Linked DNA regions of Homo sapiens. The protein of the gene in region 2 interacts with the protein of the main gene of each other region in a biochemical or structural test. Each region holds a gene or a part of one and is shown on either strand. Other genes may lie near its edges.

Region 1 (7,879 bases), on a different chromosome or scaffold from region 2:
TGAGTTTTGCTCTTGTTGCCCAGGCTGGAGTGCAGTGGGGTGATCTTGGCACACTGCAACCTCCGCCTCCCGGGTTCAAACGATTCTCCTGCCTCAGCCGCCCCAGTAGCTGGGATTACAGGCACGCGCTACCACGCCCAGCTAATTTTTGTATTTTTAGTAGAGATGGGTTTCACCATGTTGGCTAGGGCGGTCTCGAACTCCTGACCTAAGGTGATCCACCTGTCTTGGCCTCCCAAAGTGCTGGGATCACAGGCATGAGCCACCACGCCTGGCCTGGTTTTTTTTTTTTTTTTTTAACGTGTAACCAAAAATACATTACAACTGAATAACATAGCCTTAAAAAATGAAAGGCAACATGTTTTGGTTCATTGTTTTCAGAAACTAGTTTCTTGCATATAGTAACGACATTAATTATTGAGGTCTCATATTTTTGTTCAGTTTTTTAAATGAATTATTTCATTTTGTAAAAGGTTATAAGAGCAGCCAGGAGGAGCGGAATTGGAAAATCTGTGGGTAAAATCTTCTCGGTTTGGTTTTTTCATTTTACTGGTTCCTAATCCTGATTCATAATGAACAGTTTAGGAGAGAATTGCTGCAATGCAGCATTTAAAACTAAATTTTTAAAAACATGATTTAAGAACATTTTGTATACAATCTTCTATTTAGATCAAAATTGAAAGAATATTGTAGTTTATGATGTTAGAAGCATAATCAGTGCTCATGGAGAAAGTAATTTTTAAGGATTCTGATTTTCTTATAACTTGAGTTTTTAATACTTTGTCTAAACTTTTTTCCTGCTACTCATGTAATCAGTGATTTTAATATGACACCATGGCAGGCAAATCTTTCATAGTGTTTCTGTGTATGCTGTACAGCCTTTAATACAGAATTTATTTTTAATTAAGTGCTTGGTGAAGTGCTATAAATGTAACATCGAATGAAATGAATTATTTTATGAAAGTCTTTAAGCGATATACATATAAACTATTTGCTTTAAATTAGAGAACTTGTTACCGCAAAGCAAGGAGGACAGGGAAACAGTTTATGTCTTTGAAATGAGCTTGCTGGAAACACCAGAAAAAAATCAGTAGAAAAAATTAGGAGCTTGCTAAAAACACCAGGAAGAAAAATCAATAAAAAAATTACATCTATCTATTTATGAATCATGAAAGTAGAATATGGTTATTTGCATCATTAAGTATCTTTACAAATCATTATTCCTTATATGGTACACCGTAAAGGCTGCCAAAAACAAGCTGTGGTAGTTCCGAGAAATTAGAAGAGAATAAAACTAATTAGATAATCTTGCCCAGTTCCTTGCCTAAGCAAAACAACATTCTCGCTTTTCAAGTGAATGATTTGGTGTTTGAACCTTCTTGATTACCTTAAGAGGGAAAAATGAAGGAGAGGAGGGAACCATCATCACATACCTTTACAGTTGTGGAATGTTAGCCCACTATAGTGTTTAACTAAGGAAAATCTAATATAATACACTCCCAAGTGATCTGAAATGATCCGCTATTCAGAATTCCAGAGAAAGACATATCCCTGCCAGAAGGGTGTCCTTCATAACCAAATTTGGTCTTCAGTCTGGTCGGTGCATACTCAAACAGGAATCACTTCCCTTAAGGAACCTAAGGTATGCAGTTGAGATCAACTTATTCCTTTTTGATTTGTCCCCTTAAAGCATCAATCAGACGTGAATGCATCTTGTGACTTGGAGTTACTAGTAATATTGAAATCTGAAACTTGGGGGATCTTTGAAGACACATGGGATTAAAAGCTGCATAATGTACATTTCGAGGCTAAAAACCAGGTTTGAAAAATACAGATGTCCAGATGAGTTTTTCTTTAATTTATTTGAAAAATAGAGATATGCCTTAATTATAGACCATTAGAAATAATTTTTGTGTTTCACAGAGTCTTGATTTTCATTCCAGGAAGCCAGAGTCAGTAATTTATGGCTAGATCTTTAATTAAAACATTTGCCTTACTTAGTATTACAAAATCATCATTTGGTTTTGCAATCAAGATAAGACTGTTTTGTCAACTTAATGCTAAGCACTTAATTTTTATTTAACAATAACTTCTAGAAAGATAATCACTCCAGTCTCAATTATTTTTATGTTTGTGTGTTACCTTTTAATAGTTGCCATTTATATTATTTTAGTAAGGTTGTAGTGGTAGTTTATATATTTGCTTGGAGTTGATAACTAGAGTAAGCAGCTTCATAAAGTACTTCTGAAGGCAGGCTTTACTATTAAAACTGTTTACTATTATGAAGCTGTTTACATTATTTCTGGCATATCTCTTGGTAAATGGTTTAGGGGCACTATTTTCTATTGATGTAAAAATTGAGGCCAGGCATGGTGGATCACGCCTGTAATCCCAGCACTTTGGGAGGCTGAGGCAGGTGGATCACTGGAGGTCAGGAGTTTGAGACCAGCCTGGCCAACATGGCAAAACCTCATCTCTACTAAAAATACAAAAATTAGCCAGGCGTGGTGGCACATGCCTGTGGTCCCAGCTACTCAGGAGTATATTTGTAGATACATATAAAATTCTCTTGACATTACTTGATCACTTATATTAGATCCAAGTGTATAACTTAACTTAGTATTCAGGTTTTTATCTGGCCTTATCCTCTATTACTCTTTGAACCCTACAGTCTGTACTAATTATTTCTAAAATTGTGTTACTCATCTACAATATCTCATATCTTTATAGTCACTAAATGAATGTCTGCTGGATAAATGAGGGAAAATTACTTTCTTTTTGCATAGAAAAAACTATTAGTATGGTTTGTTTTTGGGTGGCGATTGTTATTTTGATTGTACTTAACGTTTGTTTTCAGAATTGTTCACCATGAATATATCTTGTGTCAGCAGTAAAATAATAGATTTCTTTTAGTCACACCTGTAGAATTGAATGTTAATTGTTTCAGTAGCATCTGAGAAAAGGATACGTTCACATATGTCACAACTAAAGAATAATCAGACATCGATGCCTATTTTAAATTGATGCCAAAGTGAGATCAGCTTCTTGTATCTGTCAGTAATGCTTTCAGCTTTAGAGGAAAAACCAACAGCTAATAGTGGCTTAAATAAATAAGAGGATGTTTTTCTCACATAACAAAAAGCCTGGATATAGGCCCTTCACGGTTCCTCACTCTGTTATACTTTGTCGTCCTTAGCTGTTGCTTTTCATCATCCTGTTTGTCGTATTTGCAAGATGGATGCTACAGCTCCAGGCATTCATTCCAGGAAGGAGAAAGGGCAGTTTTAGCTGAGATGGTCCTTTTTATCAGGATAACAACACCCTTCTCAGAGACCTCGAACAGACCGCCACTTCATATTATTCAGAGCTTGGTCATGTGACTACTAGTTGCAGGGAGACTAGGCTAACAGGTATTTGGCTTTCCGGCCTATTTATTGGGAGGTAGCAAGGGAAAGGGGAATTGGGAATGGCTTTAGGAGTGTCTGGTTCATTGTTACTTTTATTTCAGACTTTGAAGTGGGGATGTGGAGGGTAGTAGGTCTTTTTCAGCTAAGACTTAGGAAGTGTTTTCTAATGTTAAGGGCTTTTTCTGGGGTCATGATTGTTTTGTGTTTTAGGGCCCAACTTCCTTCCTTTCCTTTAGGAGAAACTAGAGAGCAGGCAGATACTTGCAAATACCTAGAACCCCTTGCCTCTTATTTTTGGATACCTACTCTTTCTCCTAGATTATTAAAATTGTTCCTGCAAGCATTTAAACTACCTCAGGTCTTACAAGTCTTAAAAAAAAAATAACTTTCTTAGACATACAGCAGATTTTCTGCACCACTTGGTTACCTCCCATTCTTTTTCAATCCATTCCAATCTGACCTTTGTCATTGAGTACTTTTTAGTTTTGTCTTGGCCTCACAACTGTATTTGACATAATCACTCCCTCCTTGAAAATTATTATTTTTTGACTTGCATGGACACCACTGATTTTTTTTTTTTGTTCAATACCCCTGGCTCCTTCTCAGACTATATTAGTGGTTCTCTGAGAGTGGTCCATGGAGTCCCCAGTATCATTTCTGGGGTCCAGAAGATCAAAGCTGTTTTCAGAATAAGATGATGTCTTTTTAACCGTTTTGATATTTGCATTTGATCCTTGCTCCTTGTACTTCAACTTAACAACTTCCATTGGTTTCTTGAATGCTACACTGTTCTTTCTGCCTTAGGATCTTTAAGTATCCTCCCAGTGCCTAGACTACTTTCCTACACGAAACCTTTTTCACCCTTCATGACTAATACTGGGGAGAGTGATGATGAGTTAGTTGCTGCGTATTTTTCAGTTCTTAAATATTCTTTCTCCAAGGGTGTTTCCGTGATATTCTGCTTTCCCGTAGACTTAGGTTCTCCTCCTATATTCTCTCATTGCACTTTCATAGCACTCAATTGCATGAGTCAGAATTCTGGTCACTTAATTTTTTAATGTCTGCCCCACTATTATTTATGCTCCACTAAAGCAGAGAGGGAATCTCTTGGTTATCATTCTAGCATGTCATCTCACATTCCATAAGTATTTGTTAAATGAAAGAATGGTTGAAAAGCTGTTGCAGGACAGGCATGGTGGTTCACACCTGTAATCCGAGCACTTGGGGAGGCTGAGGCAGGAGGATCTCTTGAGCCCAGAAGTTCAAGACAAGCCTGGGCAACATAGCATGGTGGCACATGCCTCTAGTCCCAGCTGCTCAGGAGGCTAAGGTGGGAGGATTTCTTGAGCCCAGGAGGTTGAGGCTGCAGTAAGCAGTGATTGTGCCACTGCACTCCAGCCTGGGTGACAGAACCGAGACCCTGTCTCAAAAATAAATAAATAGGTATTTAAAAAAATAAAAATCACTCAGCAATATTTGGCTGCCATAGTAGTGCTAATTATAATTACTGGGAATTATAATTGTAATTACTGGGCCCTGGGAATGCAGCAAAGACTAAAGACCATTCTTGTTTTCCTGGAGTTTATTCTAATGGATTTGTGCATGGTGATCCCTTCTACTTCAAAGATTCAATGATACCAAATTATGCATACTAGGTATACTATTTTGAGGATTAAATATATTATATGATGGCATCTGTAAAGGTTAGAAATGTTCATTTACCTTTAATTTGTATAGTTGAAACACTTTTTTGTTTTTCAGTCCAAGCCTTATGCATTTGATCGGGTGTTCCAGTCAAGCACATCTCAAGAGCAAGTGTATAATGACTGTGCAAAGAAGATTGTTAAAGGTAAATATATTCAACCTGCTGAGTTGTCTCAGCAATAAGTAAATAAGTTTGTGATCTTTTCTACTTACTCAGCTTCCTTTTTTCATTTTAATGCCCCTTTCTTCTAAGTTAATTGCAGAAGAAAGTTGTTTAAATAATAAAAAGGTCAAACACAATTAGTAAATATTCTATTGCTCAAATTCCATGATCTAATTATATACAGTACCTAATTAAGGTTATTATGAGAACTATGTTACACACTTATTCTTAAGAGATGCATTTCTGTTAGATATTCCCAGGAGAGTTTCCAAGGTGGCAGTTCTAGAAAGAGAACAGTATGAGAATGAAAACAAAAGGGCTAGACACATTTCTAAAAAGTAGTGGAAAATGGCAGTCTATCATTCTTCCATTCCATTGTTATTCCTTCCCCAAAGACTTACCTATCCCTTGAGGAATTTAACAAGGGTTGCCAAGGGTGAGAAAAGTATGTACATTCCAGTTAATACTATAACTTATACAAGAATATTTATAACTTTATATATTCTAAAACCATTGAATTTTAAAGCTGAGAGAGTGCTCATTGTTTATCTGGAGTTACTTCCAGTTACTGTAGAAATCTGTTTAATCAAAGGAATGGCTGTTACTTTGTGATATGATTTATTTCATTTTTTGACAGCTGTAGTTGTTACAAAGTGCTTCTTAGATTGAGGCAAAATCTGTGTTGTGGCATTCACCACATTAAAAGAATTGGGATTCAGTATAAAAATAGGTGGATTAGGATAGCATAGGAGCACAGATGCTCATCCTAGTAACAGGAGATAAAGTGGAGTTATAGAAGGTTTATAGATGAGGTGAGGGAGGGAAAATGTGTATGTACTCATTATATCAATTTCATATTGTCTAATACAGGGAGCAAAGTCATCATGGAGATGAGGAAGGGGGAAGAGGTTCTAGGAAAAGGCATGAAATGGATGGATTCAGGCAGTGTGAGAGTATTGCCAGGCAGTATTAAGGGCCCACTCAAGGTTAGCTGCTGAAAGAGTTGAATTTTTGCCCATTTGGAGTTTTGCTAGGTGAGTACAAAAGAGGGAAGTGGGGGACAAGAGAATTGAGGATATAGTCAAAGGAGTGATTATAATGGTGGACCATGGGATCTAAGGTGGTTAAGTTACAGGAAGAAGGATATGAGGGAGGCTGAAGGGCAGTGAAAAAAGGTGGTAACATTAGTGGGTTGTAGATCTCAGTGGGGTCAAAGATTTGTTGGAATCAGGGTACTGGACGGAGTAATAGAAGGTGAATACAGACAGTCCCTGACTTAGAACAACTTAAAATTGTTCGACTTTACGATGGTGCAAAAGCAATACACATTCAATAGAAATATTCAATAGAAATATTTCTAGTACCTGTACAACCATTCTGTTTTTCACTTTCAGTATAGTATTCAATAAATCATATGAAATATTTAACACTTTATTATAAAATAGGCTTTGTGTTAGATGGTTTTGCTGAACTGTAGATCAGTGTACGTGTTCTGAGCACATTTAAAGTAGGCTAGGCTAAGCCATGGTGTTTGGTAGGTTAGATGTGTTTGATGCATTTTCAGCTTAGGGTATTTTCAACTTACAGAACATTTATCAGGAAGTAACCCCATCGTAAGTTGATTAGTATCTCTACTTGAAATTGAGATTATGGAAGCAATGCAGTTAGTAATGAAAAGGTAAAGGTGTTGTCATGGAGTTGACTTCCGAGGTAGTAAAGAAAGGATAAGGCCAGACATGGTGGGTCACACCTGTAATTCCAGCACTTTGGGAGGCTGAGGTGGGAGGATTGCTTGAGGCCAGGAGTTTGAGACCAGCCTGGGCAACAGCGAGACCCCATCTCTGTTTTTAAAATAAAAATGAAGAAAGAATAAGATCGCAGAAAATTTGGTCAAGGAGCTGAGAGGCCAGGTTATTTTAGTGGGATTATCTGCTACAGACTTTGAAACCACCAGTACTGTTTTATTACAACAGTAATGGTATTGGTGAGAGAGAGTGAACTGGGTACTGACATCTTCATAAAATGAAGGGGAATTAACACTTGTAATTGTGTAAATGACTGCAACAAAGAGGAACAGGGTCATCATGTTGTAAGCATCATGTGGTTTTCCAGAGGGATCGATCATAGAACACAATTTTACTACATTCTTTGATTGAGACATACTTCTGTCTCATCAGTACAGTTTAAGATTACATTAGCTTTCTAACCAATAGAAAGTTACCGATTCATGAATTCATGGGCAATTTGAATATACAGGTCTTTTTTGTATCTCTTGCCGCCAGCTTTAAGCCCCATTCCATACTTGCACTTTGGAGAGCAAACCTTTAAAGTGCAGATTCCATTTTGTTCATTTTAGCTCTTAATCATATTTTGAGTTTTATACTGGGGATCTAGTAAGTTGGCTGTCAGCACATTTGATAAGTCTATTAAAGTGTCAAAGGTTTTGAAGTTTGAAAAATATGATTCTAAACCATTTATAAAGTGCTTAATGGGTCATGGTCCCTAGGTTAATCTTCTAAAATGAATAAGATTGTTGGCAGTTATTTCAATCACACTGTTTGGGTATTCAGCCAACTTCAGAGCCTCTTACCTATACGATTGGCTA
Region 2 (5,948 bases):
ATTTCCTTCTTCAACGTCCTTTCCTCAAACCTGACTTTTCTTCCCCTCACTACCCAGAAAGTTGCTGATGACTTCATTTTGACCTAGCTTTGTCTATCACGGAAGATAGCATTCTGGTATATATACTATATGTTTTCGCATTATTATGTTAGGGACTTAACGTGCTGCCATCTCTTGGGTGATGAAAAACTTTGAAAAGAGAGGATAGGTGGCAAGGAGAAGAAAATGTAATCCCAAAGAGTGAATATCTAACAAAAGAATGTTTTTTGTTAGATATAAAAGAATGTGGTGGAAACTAGCGATGGGAAGAAAGTTGAAAGACTGAAGAGGTTCTTCCTGGAGCTTCTCAAATTAAAGCACTGCTGGGTACACCACTCTCTAGGAGACTTCCCAGTATCTGAGCAGACGTTTCCATTTGCCTAGTAAAGTGATCCTAAAGGAACACCAATGTAATTTCTTATTTTCATTTTAAAAAGCAATGGCAGGTGATAATTTGTAAACAAGCAGAGGCTTGTTGGTAGAGACCTGGACAGATATCTTAAGCAATAATGTCTTAACTTCTGCCTGTCGCCTCAATGTTTTCAAACACCAGTGTGGCCAATAAATAGCAAACTGGAGACAGAAAACATGTTGTAATTTTGCATGGTTACAGAATAAGGTTCTGGTTAATTAAATATTTTGATTGGTAGAGAATTATTTTAAGTGGGTTACAATAAAATGCACTTACCATCAGTGAAACTCTAATTCAGTTCCTCTAGTGGTCAGAATATGGTCCAGTGTTGGAGTCATGATGACTCTAGGATAGAGATTTGTGAAGTGCTGGTTAACAGAAGGCTTGGATATGAACTTTAATTATTTTAAGAGAATTGGAATGTACAGGAAAGGGTAGGTGTATGACAAAAACAGGAAGGCTGCATTTGAGGATAGTCATTCACTAATTTCATAGATATAATTGAGCACCTACTATGGGCAAGAATTGGGAAGAGAAGGCCAGCCCCAAAGGTCCCCCTATTGCCAAGATTAAAGGGAGACAGGTCAGCATTTTTCAATCAATTTTATTTCAGATCCACTCTCACACTGTCCTATGAGATGAAAGAGGAAAAAGTTACATTTTTACATGAAAGATTATGATACAGTGTAGTGATAAAAAATATACACTTTGGGACCTGACTGCCTGGATTTGTATCTTGGTTCTGACATGTGTCAGCTGTGTGACAGTGGGCAAGTTAATTAACCTCTCTGTGCTTTAGTTTACTCATCTATAAATTAATGATGAAAGTAGATACAACCTCCTAGGGTTGTTCTGAAGATTAGAGTTAATATATTTAGAGCTCTTACCTCAGGAACCTATCTGCACTTATATTAGTCACTTGTTATAAAAACTGTTGTTAAGACTGAGGCTCTAAAGGTTTCTGGTGATTTGTCTTCAGTGACACGTGCATTTTTGAGCTGTGGCATTTAGGTCTCCTGACTCATATTGAGTTGCCCAATATTAAAAACATAACTCAAAAGGTCCAAAGGAACTTCCTTTACATACATCCACATTCATTCCCACATCCCCTAATACACATGCATTCATACACCAAAAATATTTTCTACTCACTTGAAGGAAATAATTACTATGGTGGGAAACAAAGTCCATTATTCTTCAATTAGAAAACAAAACAAAACAAAACAAAAACAAACTTAGAATAGTTTGAATGAGGTAAATACATTGGCAAATTAATTCACACTAATGTGTAAATGACTACCACTTGAGTATTTTCTAATAATGGGATTTGCCAAAAGGATCCTGGGGCCGTTTAGTGGAGAAAAGTTTTACCAACAAGTCACTGAAGATGCTGAAAAGCAAACATCCCCACATTGCACTGTACAACAAATGAACTCCCACCAGGGGGTCTCAGAATGCAGCCTGCTGTTTTCAGGACCTCTGAGCCACATTTCCTTGGGCCACATCTATACTTGCCTGGTACTGGCAGAGAACTACAAGAGAACCTATTGACAAGGTCGAGTTACATTGTGGCCTCAGAGTCTAATCATTCAGGCCACTCTCCACAGAAGAGTGAAGTTGATCAAGTTTATCTTCTGGTCCCAGACTTTCAGCTCCTGATATCTCTCTGAATACCAGGCCTACTCTGGTGTTTATTTTTCCTGCTCTGCCATCTGGCTCCCAATTTCTGTTGCTCTTTCCTCCTTCCTCCTATTTTAAACCTGCTATCAATAATAGATTTGGTGTCAGTCATTTACCCCATTGGACAGTGCAAATTAACGAGTCTTAACGTGGCTTGGCTAGTTAAGGAACAATTTTTTTTTCTTCCCCTACTGATGATGTTTTTAGTGATTTTGTTTTTGGAAGCAAGAAAACCTTGGGGCAGGGTTGGGTAATGGAGAGTGCTTCCCAGAGCCCCTGAAATCAAACCTGCGGGTCGCTGCCTTCTCTATTCACTCATAAAACTACTCCAGTAATCAAGGGGCTTGGAAATTTGACTAAATTTGTTTTTTGTTTTTCTCTCTGTACATTGACTTTTAAATTTAGATTTGTGAACAGAAGTTTTCTGAAAAGGAATTTGGTGGAAAGGCTTTATTCCCGTTAATAGTTTGAAAACGGGACTGGGCACAATGGCTCAGGACTCTAATCCCAGCACTTTGGGAGGCCGAGGCAGGTGTGTCATCTCAGGTCAGGAGTTTGAGATCAGCCTGGCCAACATGGTGAAACCCTGTCTCTACTGAAAAAATACAAAATTAGCCGGGTGTGGTGGTGGGCACCTGTAATCCCAGCTACTTGGGAGGGTGAGGCTGGAGAGTTGCTTGAACCTGGGAGGCGGAGGTTGCAATGAGCTGAGATGGCACCACTGCACTCCAGCTTGGTGACAAGACTGAAACTCTGTCTCAAAAAAAAAAAAAAAAAAAAAGAAAAGAAAATGGGAAAATGGAGGACACACTTTTCAGTGTAAACCAGGGTGCAGAGAACAAAAGGGGGTTTGGATTTTACAAAGTCAGTGCCCACCCATGTTGCCAGTTAGTTCTGTTTGTGCAAATAAAGGATTCAAACTTGCTTAGTTCTGATTGGTTATTGGAGCCAAGTTCTGATTGGTCAATAGAGCTGAGTCCTGATTGGTTAATTTAACTGAGTTCTGATTGGTTGGTTCGGGTGAGCTCTGAAAGCCCTAAAAAGAAAAAGGTGCTGGTTTTCAGGGTACTTGAGTAAGCTGTCATCTCTAGTCAAAAAAGGGCCACTTGGATCTATTTTAAATTTAGGGCCAGTGGCCGGGCACGGTGGCTCACTCCTGTAATCCTAGCACTTTGGGAGGCCAAGGTGGGCGGATCACCAGGGGTCAGGAGTTTAAGACCAGCCTGGCCAACAGGATGAAACCCTATCTCTACTAAAATACAAAAATTAGCCGGGCATGATGGCGGGTGACTGTAAGCCCAGCCACTCGGGAAGCTGAGATGGGAGAATCGCTTGAACCCGGGAGACGGTAGTTGCAGTGAGCCGAGATCACTGCCACTGCACTCCAGCAGGGACGGCTGCGACTTCGTCTCAAAAAAAAAAAAAAAAAAAAATTTTGGGCCAGTAAACCACGTGAGATCCATTTTGAAGGATGGGCTCTTTGATTTTGACGTTTATTCACAGATGCATCAGCACACATGTAGTTTCATTAGACCAGCCTTTTCTCCATGAGAATGGTATGAAATTTTGCAATGAGCACTCAATTGGAATCAGAGGACTATTGAGGACTGTCTCCAATTGTCAGAGGACTGTTGGACTATTCTTGGGCTCAAAAATGCTGCCACAACTTTCCAGCTTGGCAGGAAGCTTAAGCTTTCTCTGCACCTCTGTTTCCTAATTTGTAAAAGAGGTGGAATTATTTACTTCCCAGCATTATTGTGAAGCTTACATGAAATAACCTATGGAGAATCAATTTGTTAAAGCATTCCTCACTTTTGCAGGCCTTTGAGCTTGAAGTAAAAAACTTTTCCTAGCTAACATGTGTCACGTTTCTAGCTAACATTCTTTCTTGCCCCCTAACATATCCCTTGGAGTAAATATTACATCCCTAGCTCAACCACATGTTTTAAATTTACATTCAGTATAACCATTTTTTTTTAAACCAGAGGCACAAAAATCTCCTACAAGGAGATAATGAAATGTGTCTTCTCTCATCAGTGCAGCAAGGCAGAAATTTATGATCATAATTGCCTACTTTGCGGCAAAGTATCTTTACTATGGTTGCTAATAAGGCAGTCTTTTTCTAAGAACTGCAGGGAAGTGATGTGGAAGTAAAGGTTTTTTGGCCTGAAGGGACATGCTGAGAAATGAAGCTGTTGGCAGAAAACTTATCCTTGGCAGCATTTGGTGGGATGAGGCGATAGACTCATTCCCTCACTCCCTGTGGCCTGTCTCCTTCAAGGCAGGACACCCTAAGCTTAGGGAGCATCAGAGAGGGTGTTAAAGGGTGAGAACACCATTGGCTTGCCTGTTAACATGTTACTTTTGTCGCCCTCAGCCCAGCATCAGCGGGGTGGACCTTGATAAGTTCCGCGAGATTCTCCTGCGTCACTGCGACGTGAACAAGGATGGAAAAATTCAGAAGTCTGAGCTGGCTTTGTGTCTTGGGCTGAAAATCAACCCATAATCCCAGACTGCTTTGCCTTTTGCTCTTACTATGTTTCTGTGATCTTGCTGGTAGAATTGTATCTGTGCATTGATGTTGGGAACACAGTGGGCAAACTCACAAATGGTGTGCTATTCTTGGGCAAGAACAGGGACGCTAGGGCCTTCCTTCCACCGGCGTGATCTATCCCTGTCTCACTGAAAGCCCCTGTGTAGTGTCTGTGTTGTTTTCCCTTGACCCTGGGCTTTCCTATCCTCCCAAAGACTCAGCTCCCCTGTTAGATGGCTCTGCCTGTCCTTCCCCAGTCACCAGGGTGGGGGGGACAGGGGCAGCTGAGTGCATTCATTTTGTGCTTTTCTTGTGGGCTTTCTGCTTAGTCTGAAAGGTGTGTGGCATTCATGGCAATCCTGTAACTTCAACATAGATTTTTTTGTGTGTGTGGAAATAAATCTGCAATTGGAAACAAAAATGTACTGGTAATTGCTTTTGTCTTGTGACCTTTGAAATGTTCTACCTGATGGTTTGACTAACAAACCCCTTATCTAATGGGGATCGGGGGAATGGTGGAGAAGGAGAGTGAAGGGCAATATCTTAAAAGAAATCCACACCACCAATCCTTCTATAGTCCTCACATGCCCTCACTAGGGCTGACTTCCTGGTGAGCTGGCATTAAAGTGAGAGCTGCCAATAATCACTTTTTATTGGAAGGAGGAGACCAGAACACTCATCCTGGACTGGGGTTTGTTCTTAAGTGCTTGGTGAGCTCACATGGCTAGGCAGGTAGATATAGAGAAGAAGTATGAAGAAAATGTTTCCCAAGTAACCCGGGCTCCCCTCTCCATCCCTTCCTTTTCCAACAGTGCTCCCCAGCAAATCTGGGACCACGACAGCCTTCTTCTAGGTACGTGAGTGCCTCTCATGGGTGCCTCTGCATGCTCCTGGCCCCAACATGTGCCCTGCTCTCTTCTCTCCTGGAACTCTGATGCCATCCCCATGGAAAGGAGACTGTTGGGGCAAGGGGAGAGTTTCTGCAGGGTAGGCCCCACTTTCCTTTACTGTCTTCATCCTTTATTCTTCATAACACCCCTACCTTATACTAGACTGTGTAGTAATTTCAGGCTTAGTGAAGTGTTACAGATAATTCAGAAAAATTAGTGTAGAACAGTGTATTTAGAGCTGTTCATAACCCACGAATTCTGTTTACAGGGGTTCCCTTCATTGCACACCGTCGTCCTAACCTGATTTTCTTCCCTTCATGTCACCCTTACCTCCAACATATAGATAATTCATATTAAGAACTGCTATTTACTAAGTGCTTTCTATGTGCCAAGT
Region 3 (7,853 bases), on a different chromosome or scaffold from region 2:
ACACAGGAAATGAAACTTCAGAACTTTGTTTCTAGACTGGGTTAGTTTAGAAACCAAACAGAGCCCTGGGCTGGGAGTTGGAAGACCTGGTGTCTAACTTTAACTGGCTGTGTGCCCCCAGCATGGTGCTTCCCCTCCCTGAGCCTCTGTTTTCTCCTCTGTTACATGGGCATCATAATGGTCCCGACCTTGGTGTATTAAATGTGAAACACTCAGCACGCGCCTGGCACATAGTAGGCACTCAATAAACAGTAGCTACTGTTAATACGTTATTGCCACCTGCATGCCTCTCATCTGCACACATACACTCTGTCCCAGCTGCGAGTGTCCCTTACCAATCTTCAGCCACCACCAACTTCCCAGGGCCACCTCCCGGCCACCCGGAGGCCCAAAGCAGACAGTGCATCAAGAGCATCCCGCACCCCTCGCACCGGCTCACACCCAGCTCCCGCCCCACACCCTGGGACCCCCACAAGCCTGCAGCACGGGTGATGTGAATCCTGCCTGGACATGAAGACAGGCCTGCTTCTCCTTCCTTCCCTGCCTGGAACTCATTCCAATAGGCAGTGGCGGCAGGTCTTGTGGCTGCCCCAGATGGGCTGCAGAACACCGCGGGTGCCCACACCAGCCTCGAGCCAGCATCCAGCCACCGCCTCAACCCCAAGGCCCGTGGCAATGGGAGATGCCCAGAAACTCAAGGGGCAGGAATCTTTAGGGATCTCATTCTCCGTGTCCCACACCCCTAACAGGCCTGGGACAGATGGGAACAAAATACCCCTGGTGCCAGGCACTTTATTCTATTATCTCCTTGATTCCTACAATTCCACGTCCCATTACAATCCCCACTACAGAAAACAGGCTTAAAGAGCATAGTGATTTGCTCAACGCCACTCAAGGTGGCAGAGCCTCAATCCAAGCCCAGGCCAACCTGACTCCAGGGCCCATCTTTTGCCCCGTGTGTGGGCCTGGTCTAGATGCCTCCCTGCCCTTGAACGAGGGGAACCCTGGCCTAGTCCACCACCTGGGCGGCACCCACCCTCTCGCTGACCGCATTGTACTTAATGGCGAGCTCATCGCGCTCGGCACGGCTCTGGGCCAGCAGGTCCTCCACGCGGGACAGCTCCTGCTGCAGCAGCTGGTTCTCCTCCTGCAGCGACAGCAGCGATGCCATCTCTGTGGCCGGCAGCAGGACTGGCAAGGGACAGTGGGCACATGGTTGGCTTCTGGGTCCAGTGGGACATCCTCCCCCCAACAGGGAGGGCAAGAAAACCATCCAGGCCCCTGGGAGGAGTCCAGATGGGAATGGCTGCAGCACCAGGCCTGCAAACAGAGCTGAGAACAGGGAGGAAGGCAAGGAGGGGATACAAAGCTGGACGTAAAGTGAACACAACTCCAGCTAAAGTGTGGCCCAGCAGGTTTGGGAGGTGCAGGAGAGACACTCAGTCTAGGAGCCAGGAGACCCCTGAGTTCTTGCTCCCTCCTTTTCCAATTAGTCTTCTTCTCCGGGGCCTCAGATTTACTTATCTGTAATATGGGTGGGGCGGGCACGGACTCACGCCTGTAATCCCAGCACTTTGGGAGTCGAGATAGGAGGATCACCTGAGGTCAGGAGTTTGAGACTAGCCTGGCCAACACGGCGAAGCCCTGTCTCTACTAAAAATACAAAAATTAGCTGGGCATGGTGGTGTATGCCTGTAGTCCCAGCTACTTGGGAGGCTGAGACAGCAGAATCACTTGAACCGGGGAGGTGGAGGTTGCAGTGAGCTGAGATTGCGCCACTGCACTCCAGCCTGGGCAACACAGCGAGACTCTGTCTCAAAAAAAAAAAAAAAAAAAAAAAAGGTAGAATAGTAGTAACCAGATCCTCCCAGAAAAGCATCAAAGCCTCGCTCAAGAGAAGGGCTTCATGGAACTTTAAAGGCTAGGGCTCAGGAGAGCATAGCATAGGTCAGGTTGTGAGGAGAAGGAGAAAGAGAGAAGAGGGAAAGAAAGGCCAGCGGGAGAAGCGGGGTTGTCCACCTCCTGTGGGTTCCCCTTCTACCCTGGGAGAACTGGACATACACCCCAGGTGTCAGGGTGAGGGCCCTCTGAGTCTCTCCCTGTCTGGGGCTCCAGGGCGCCAACATCCCTGGCGCTCCCAAGGAGGGGGCCCGTCTGTAGCTTGGGAGTTGAACACAGACAATGGTTAGAGCACCAAAACGCCACACGCCAGCACACCAGCTGCAACTGAGTGTGCCTTTCCCAGATCCTCAAGCCACATAACTACACCGTGTGCGCCACCCACTGAGAGGAGCAGGGACCATCCGCCTTCCTGCCCACGTGGGAAACGGATGGACGGCGCCATCCACTCAGACTTCCGCAAAACCCTGGTCTGAGCTGAGCTGCCCTCTTCCTGTATCTTGGGTTCAGCCAGCTCACACCTTCCCCGGGTGGGAATACGGGATTTGGGGTTCACATCTCTGCAGCAGGCTACAGGCAAGCACGCAGGAGATGCTCGGCCCTTCCTTCTAGTTGCACCACATGCGGAATAAGTCTGGACAAATTACATCCCTGAGCCTCTGTTTCCTCATCTGTAAAATGGGTTCTTCTGTCATAAAGCTGTGCCTGCCCCACAGTGAGTTACAGTCATGATCATCATGGTGACTGCTCAGGAAAGGGACATGAGAAGAGGTAAAATGTGGGTGGTGTTTGTGGAGGGGAGCGGATGGGGGTGGCACCTGGGCTCTCAGGCTGGGAGAGGTTGCGGGTGACAATCTCCCTGATAAGGGCAGGCAGGCTGGTGATCTGAGCGTCCTGGGCCAGGTCCCGCGCGCCCAAGCCTTTCTCCTGGCACAGGACGCTGCTCTCCAGTGTCTGTGGGAAAAGCGAGAGGGTCTTCAGGGGACATGGGACCCGGGGCTCCCTGGCCTCGTGGGGAGAGCCACAGAATCCTACTGCCCAAGATACAGGTCCCCAGGAGCCCCCTCAAGATGGAGTGAAGCCTGGGAGTTAGAATCCAAAAAATCCCCATGCAAAGAGCCTCTTGTGTGCTCACTGCCCCAGGAAGAAGGCCCAGGGCCAGAGATGAGAACCAAACCCTACGGGTAACTCCCAAACCCCACTGGAGGCAGTCCAGTGTTGGGGGCCCCAATCCGGTTCCGACCCTAGATGGATGAGGATCTGGCTATGCCAGAGGTCCCCCAAGCCCTAAAATCTGGCAGTAGAGACCCCCTTCTCCCAACCCAGGGCACTGGGATGAGGGAGCCACAGCAGGTGCACCCTGTGTGTACCTCTGCCCCCCATCTTGCCAGGAACTGCAAGCGGGGGGCCCCTGTATACCCCACCACCACCACACCTCTCCCACCCCTTGATCCCCAAGACGCACACACCTCTCACCACTCCTGTTAAGTCCACGCTGCCCCGCCCCAGACAGGGTGGGCACAGCCCCCAGGACCCACCTGGATAACCGTCTCTAGTGTCAGCTCCACCTCCTGTGCCCCCGCCAGCCCCAAGCTCATGGGGGGGAGGCTGTGGGCATGCCTCCAGCCCCCTTCTCCAGGACCCCAAGACTAGCTCAGTCAGCACGCGCCACAGCCAGGATGCTGTGCTGAGCACCAGGCAGATTAAGCTTAAATCCGGCGGCGCCCCCATGTGACCACCGCGGTGGGAGGAGCAGGATGTGGGCTGAGGAGGGAGGGGATGGGAAAGGACAGGAGAGGAGGGAAGCAGAGGCAGGGAGCCAAAGGAAGAGGAAGGATGAAGAGAGGGGAGGAGAAGGGAGAGAAAAGGAGGGAGGAGAGAGAAGAGGGAATGGGAGGAGGAAACAGGGGAGACACCTGGAGGTCAGGACCTCACACACTCTTCACCCTGCGCAGGTTGCTGGGTCCTAGAGCCCTCCAAGCCCAGGGGGTGGGGTCAGTAGCCATGCGGCGGGAAAGGCCAGAGTCCTAAGTATTTGTGACCATCTTTCTGGCCCAGAACGGGAGTCACATGGTTAGCTAAGAATGAGAGGATTTACAGCATGCTGGGAGTATGTTTTCCCACAACAGGTGTAGGGCAAAGAATGCAGGCTGTGAGATCACCCAGGCCAGGCTTGGCACTTAGTTGGGCATGAGCGGTCCAGCCTGGACTGATGAGCATTTATGCAACACCTGCGGCATTCCTAGGTCTGACCTAGACACAGTGGTAGAGCCTCGAACTACAAATGCCCTAGCCTTGCCCTTCAGGCACTTATTGGGAAGCTTCTGGCCCCTTCACACCCACCCCAGCCCCCACTAGCTGGGTGCACCAGGGACACTGACTTTGCCTCTCTGAGACTCAGTGTCCTCTTACGTAAGATGTGATAATATTGGTACTCATCTCTCGGAGCCGTCCGGGGATGAAACAGTATCGTGTGTGCATACCCAGCACATGACATGGTGCTGGGGGGTCACGTGGCCAACACTCAAGAAATACTCATTTCATTCATTTGAAAATCCAGAAGGTACAGTCCCAGCCAGGCGCAGGCACTCATGCCTGTAATCTCGGCATTTTGGGAGGACAAAGCGGGTGGATCACCTGAGGTCAGGAGTTCAAGATCAGCCTGACCAATATGGTGAAACCCCGTCTCTACCAAAAATACAAAAATTAGCCGGGTGTGGTGGTGCACACCTGTAATCCCAGCTACTTGGGAGGCTGAGGCAGGAGAATCGATTGAACTCAGGAGGCAGAGGTTGCAGTGAGCCAAGATCGCGCCATTGCACTCCAGCCTGGGCAACAAGAGTGGAACTTTGTCTCAAAAAAAAAAAAAAAAAAGGCACAGTCCCTATATCCCAGGGCCCTGAGACCCAGAGGTCACCCACCACCTCCCATTGTTCTTTCCCTGGGGCAAGGAGGCTATGTGCTCTAGTGCTTAGGCGCACAGCTCTGGAGTCAGTATCAGGTCTGAGGTTGCATGTGAGACTCAGCTCTGTCACTTGCAACTATGGTGTTCAAGACAGTAAGACCTTGAACAGGTTACCTCCCTGAGCCTCAGTTTTCTCATCTCTAAAAGGAGACTAAACCAGGCCAGGTGCAGTGGCTCAAGCCTCTAATTCCAGCACTTTGGGAGGCTGAGGCGGGCAGATCACTTGAGGTCAGGAGTTTGAGACCAGCCTGGCCAACATAGTGAAACCCCATCTCTACTAAAAATACAAGAATTGGCCTGTAATCCCAGCACTTTGGGATGCTGAGGCAGGCGGATCAGGAGGTCAAGAGATTAAGACCATCCTGGCCTACATGGTGAAACCCCGTCTCTATTAAAAATACAAAAATTAGCTAGGCATGGTGGTGCACACCTGTAGTCCCAGCTACCTGGGAGGCTGAGTCAGGAGAATCGCTTGAACCTGGGAGGCAGAGGTTGCAGTGAGGCGAGATCATGCCACTGCACTCCAGCCTGGCGACACAGTAAGACTCCGTCTCAAAAATATAAATAAATAAATAAATAAATATAAAAAAAATTAGCTGGGGCGTGGTGGCATGTGCATATAATCCTAGCTACTCAGGAGGCTGAGGCAGGGGAATCACTTGAACCCAGGAGGAGGAGGTTGCAGTGAGCCGAGATTGTGCCACAGCACTCCAGCCTGGGTGACAGGGCAAGAGTCTGTCTCAAAAAAATAAAATAAAATAAAATGAGACTAGACCGAGTGTGGTGATTCAGGTCTATAATCCCAGCACTTTGGGAGGCCAAAATGGGAGAATCGCTTGAGCCCAGGAGTTTGAGACCAGCCTGGGCAACATAGCGAGACTCTGTCCTACCAAAAACAACAAAAAAATGCGACTGATAGTACCTACCACACCTGGCAGGTGGTGAGCTATTAGCCAATGGGGGCCACTGTTCCTATTGTCATTAGCATCACGTGTCTGGGCTCCTGCCCTTAGAGTTGTAAGCCCTAAAAAAGGACAGGAATTGCTCACTCGAGGAGCTCGGCTTTTAAGACACAAGTCTCCTGAAGTTCCCAGCCGAATAAAGTTCCTTCCTTCTTTAACCTGGTGACTGAAGAGTTTTGCCTGCGGCTTGTCCTGCTACACTGCTATGCCTCAGCCCTCCGTCCCTGGGTGCCCTCTGCTCCATGCTGTGCCCCAAAGGGGGCATATTCACATTATCTCATTAAATCCTTACTTCAACCTATTTCCAGATGAGAAAACTGAGGCTCAGAGACATTGGGCTCTCACCTATTCAAGGCGACATGCTTCAGGGAAGTGGTGAGCCCAAAGCTCATTCCACTTAGACCAGCAGCCTCCCAATGAGTGACTGAAGGGCAAGGCCGAGGCATTTGCGCTTTGAGGCTCTACTTCTGTATCCAGGTCAGACCCAGAATGCCACGGTGCTGTATAAATGCTCATCAGTCCAGGCTGGACCGCTCACGCCCAACTAAGGAAACTGCCCTGCAAATGGAAAACCAAGAAACAGGTCTGAAAAGATAAATGTTGCCAAGTTGCAATGGCAAGCAAGCCAGATTTGGGCAAAACTAAACCAGCTACTGGCCAGGTGCAGTGGCTCATGCCTGTAATCCCAACACTGGGATGCCGAGGCAGGTCGATCACTTGAGGTCAGGAATTCTAGACCAGCCTGGCCAACGTGGTGAAACCCCGTCTCTACTAAAAATACAGAAATTAGCTGGGCATGGTGGTGGGTGCCTGTAGTCCCAGCTACTCGGGAGGCTGAGGCACAAGAATCACTTGAAACTGGGAGGCAGAGGTTGCAGTGAGCTGAGATCGCACCACTGTACTCCAGCCTGGGTGACAGAGAGAGACTCTGTCTCAAAAAAAAAACAAAAACAAAAAACTAAACCGGCCAGCAGATAGAGCTGCCACTACAAACCCCAGGGACGCCCACTCTTCTACCTCTAGGCAGCCTCCAAAAAATCCCCTCTACAGGCTGCACACCTGCCCACCAGAACAGGGGGGAAGCCAAAAATACCCCTGGACCAGCATGTCCAGCCCTGCATGCCCAGCTCAGCAGAGGGGGCCCCAGATGTCCTTGAGGGACTGAACTGGATTATTCTGTGCCTTCTCCTGACCACGGCCCTAAGGGTTGGAGGAAGGGGACAGGATGTCAGCCCCTGGCACCAGGTGACATTCACCCTTGGCTCCATCCCCAAAGTTCTCCCCCAGAGTCCTGCTGGGTTCTGTGGGTCCCAGGAAGTCATATCTGAACCTCGTGTATGTGTCCACTGCTTCCACCCAATTCTCCAAAAAAAAAAAAAAAAAAAAAAAGACTGAATTCCTCTTAGAAATCTGGATGCTAACAGCTTCAGCATCTGGCCACCTGGACTCCAATCTTGGCTCACCAGCCCCTCACCAGCTGTGTGACCCTGCACCAGTGTCTTCACTTCTCTGAGCTTCAGTTTCCTCATCTGCAAAATGGGATAATAATGGTGCCTGTTTCTAGCATGAGCATTAAATAAAATACTCCGTGCTAAGCTATATGCCTGGATATGGTGTGGCAGAAACTGCAATGTGCTCACCACAAAGCATTTCCGATTCCTCTTAGGAATATGGCTAAAAGCCATTTCCCAGACTCCCTTGCAGTCAGATACGGCCATGTGGTCAAGTTCTGGTCCATAGAATTAAGACAGAAAGACAGCGTGCCACTTTAGGCTTGGTCCATAAAATTATTTCTCTCCTTCCTGGTCCATCAGCTAGAAGGAAATAACTCCAAGGTCCTAGGGGATGCCGCAACCACAAGACAGAAGGGATCTCGGTCCCTGGGTCGCCACATAGAAAGCCACCTGCCAAACACCCAACAGGGCTTTTCATGAATGAGAAATAAACTTCTATTGCGCTAAGCCTCTGAGAATTCAGGGTTTCACTATCACATTAGCTAGTGTTACCTTAATTACTACCTGCAGTTC

Evidence for each region.
Region 1: the proteins of SCGN (region 2) and KIF5B form a complex in vitro, tested with the Homo sapiens proteins (one study listed by BioGRID).
Region 3: the proteins of SCGN (region 2) and CROCC form a complex in vitro, tested with the Homo sapiens proteins (one study listed by BioGRID).

What each region holds. Positions count from the first base shown.
Region 1 is NC_000010.11:32,045,841-32,053,719, reverse strand, and holds part of KIF5B (kinesin-1 heavy chain), read left to right. Parts: intron 1-3,196; exon of another isoform or gene 3,197-3,410; intron 3,411-5,168; coding exon 5,169-5,256; intron 5,257-7,879. UniProt on the Homo sapiens protein: Microtubule-dependent motor required for normal distribution of mitochondria and lysosomes. Can induce formation of neurite-like membrane protrusions in non-neuronal cells in a ZFYVE27-dependent manner.
Region 2 is NC_000006.12:25,696,699-25,702,646, forward strand, and holds the end of SCGN (secretagogin), read left to right. Parts: intron 1-727; exon of another isoform or gene 728-2,276; intron 2,277-4,508; coding exon 4,509-4,637; 3' UTR 4,638-5,085; downstream 5,086-5,948.
Region 3 is NC_000001.11:16,917,663-16,925,515, reverse strand, and holds the start of CROCC (rootletin), read right to left. Parts: upstream 3,586-7,853; 5' UTR 3,498-3,585; coding exon 3,438-3,497; intron 2,854-3,437; coding exon 2,718-2,853; intron 1,192-2,717; coding exon 1,037-1,191; intron 1-1,036. UniProt on the Homo sapiens protein: Major structural component of the ciliary rootlet, a cytoskeletal-like structure in ciliated cells which originates from the basal body at the proximal end of a cilium and extends proximally toward the cell nucleus.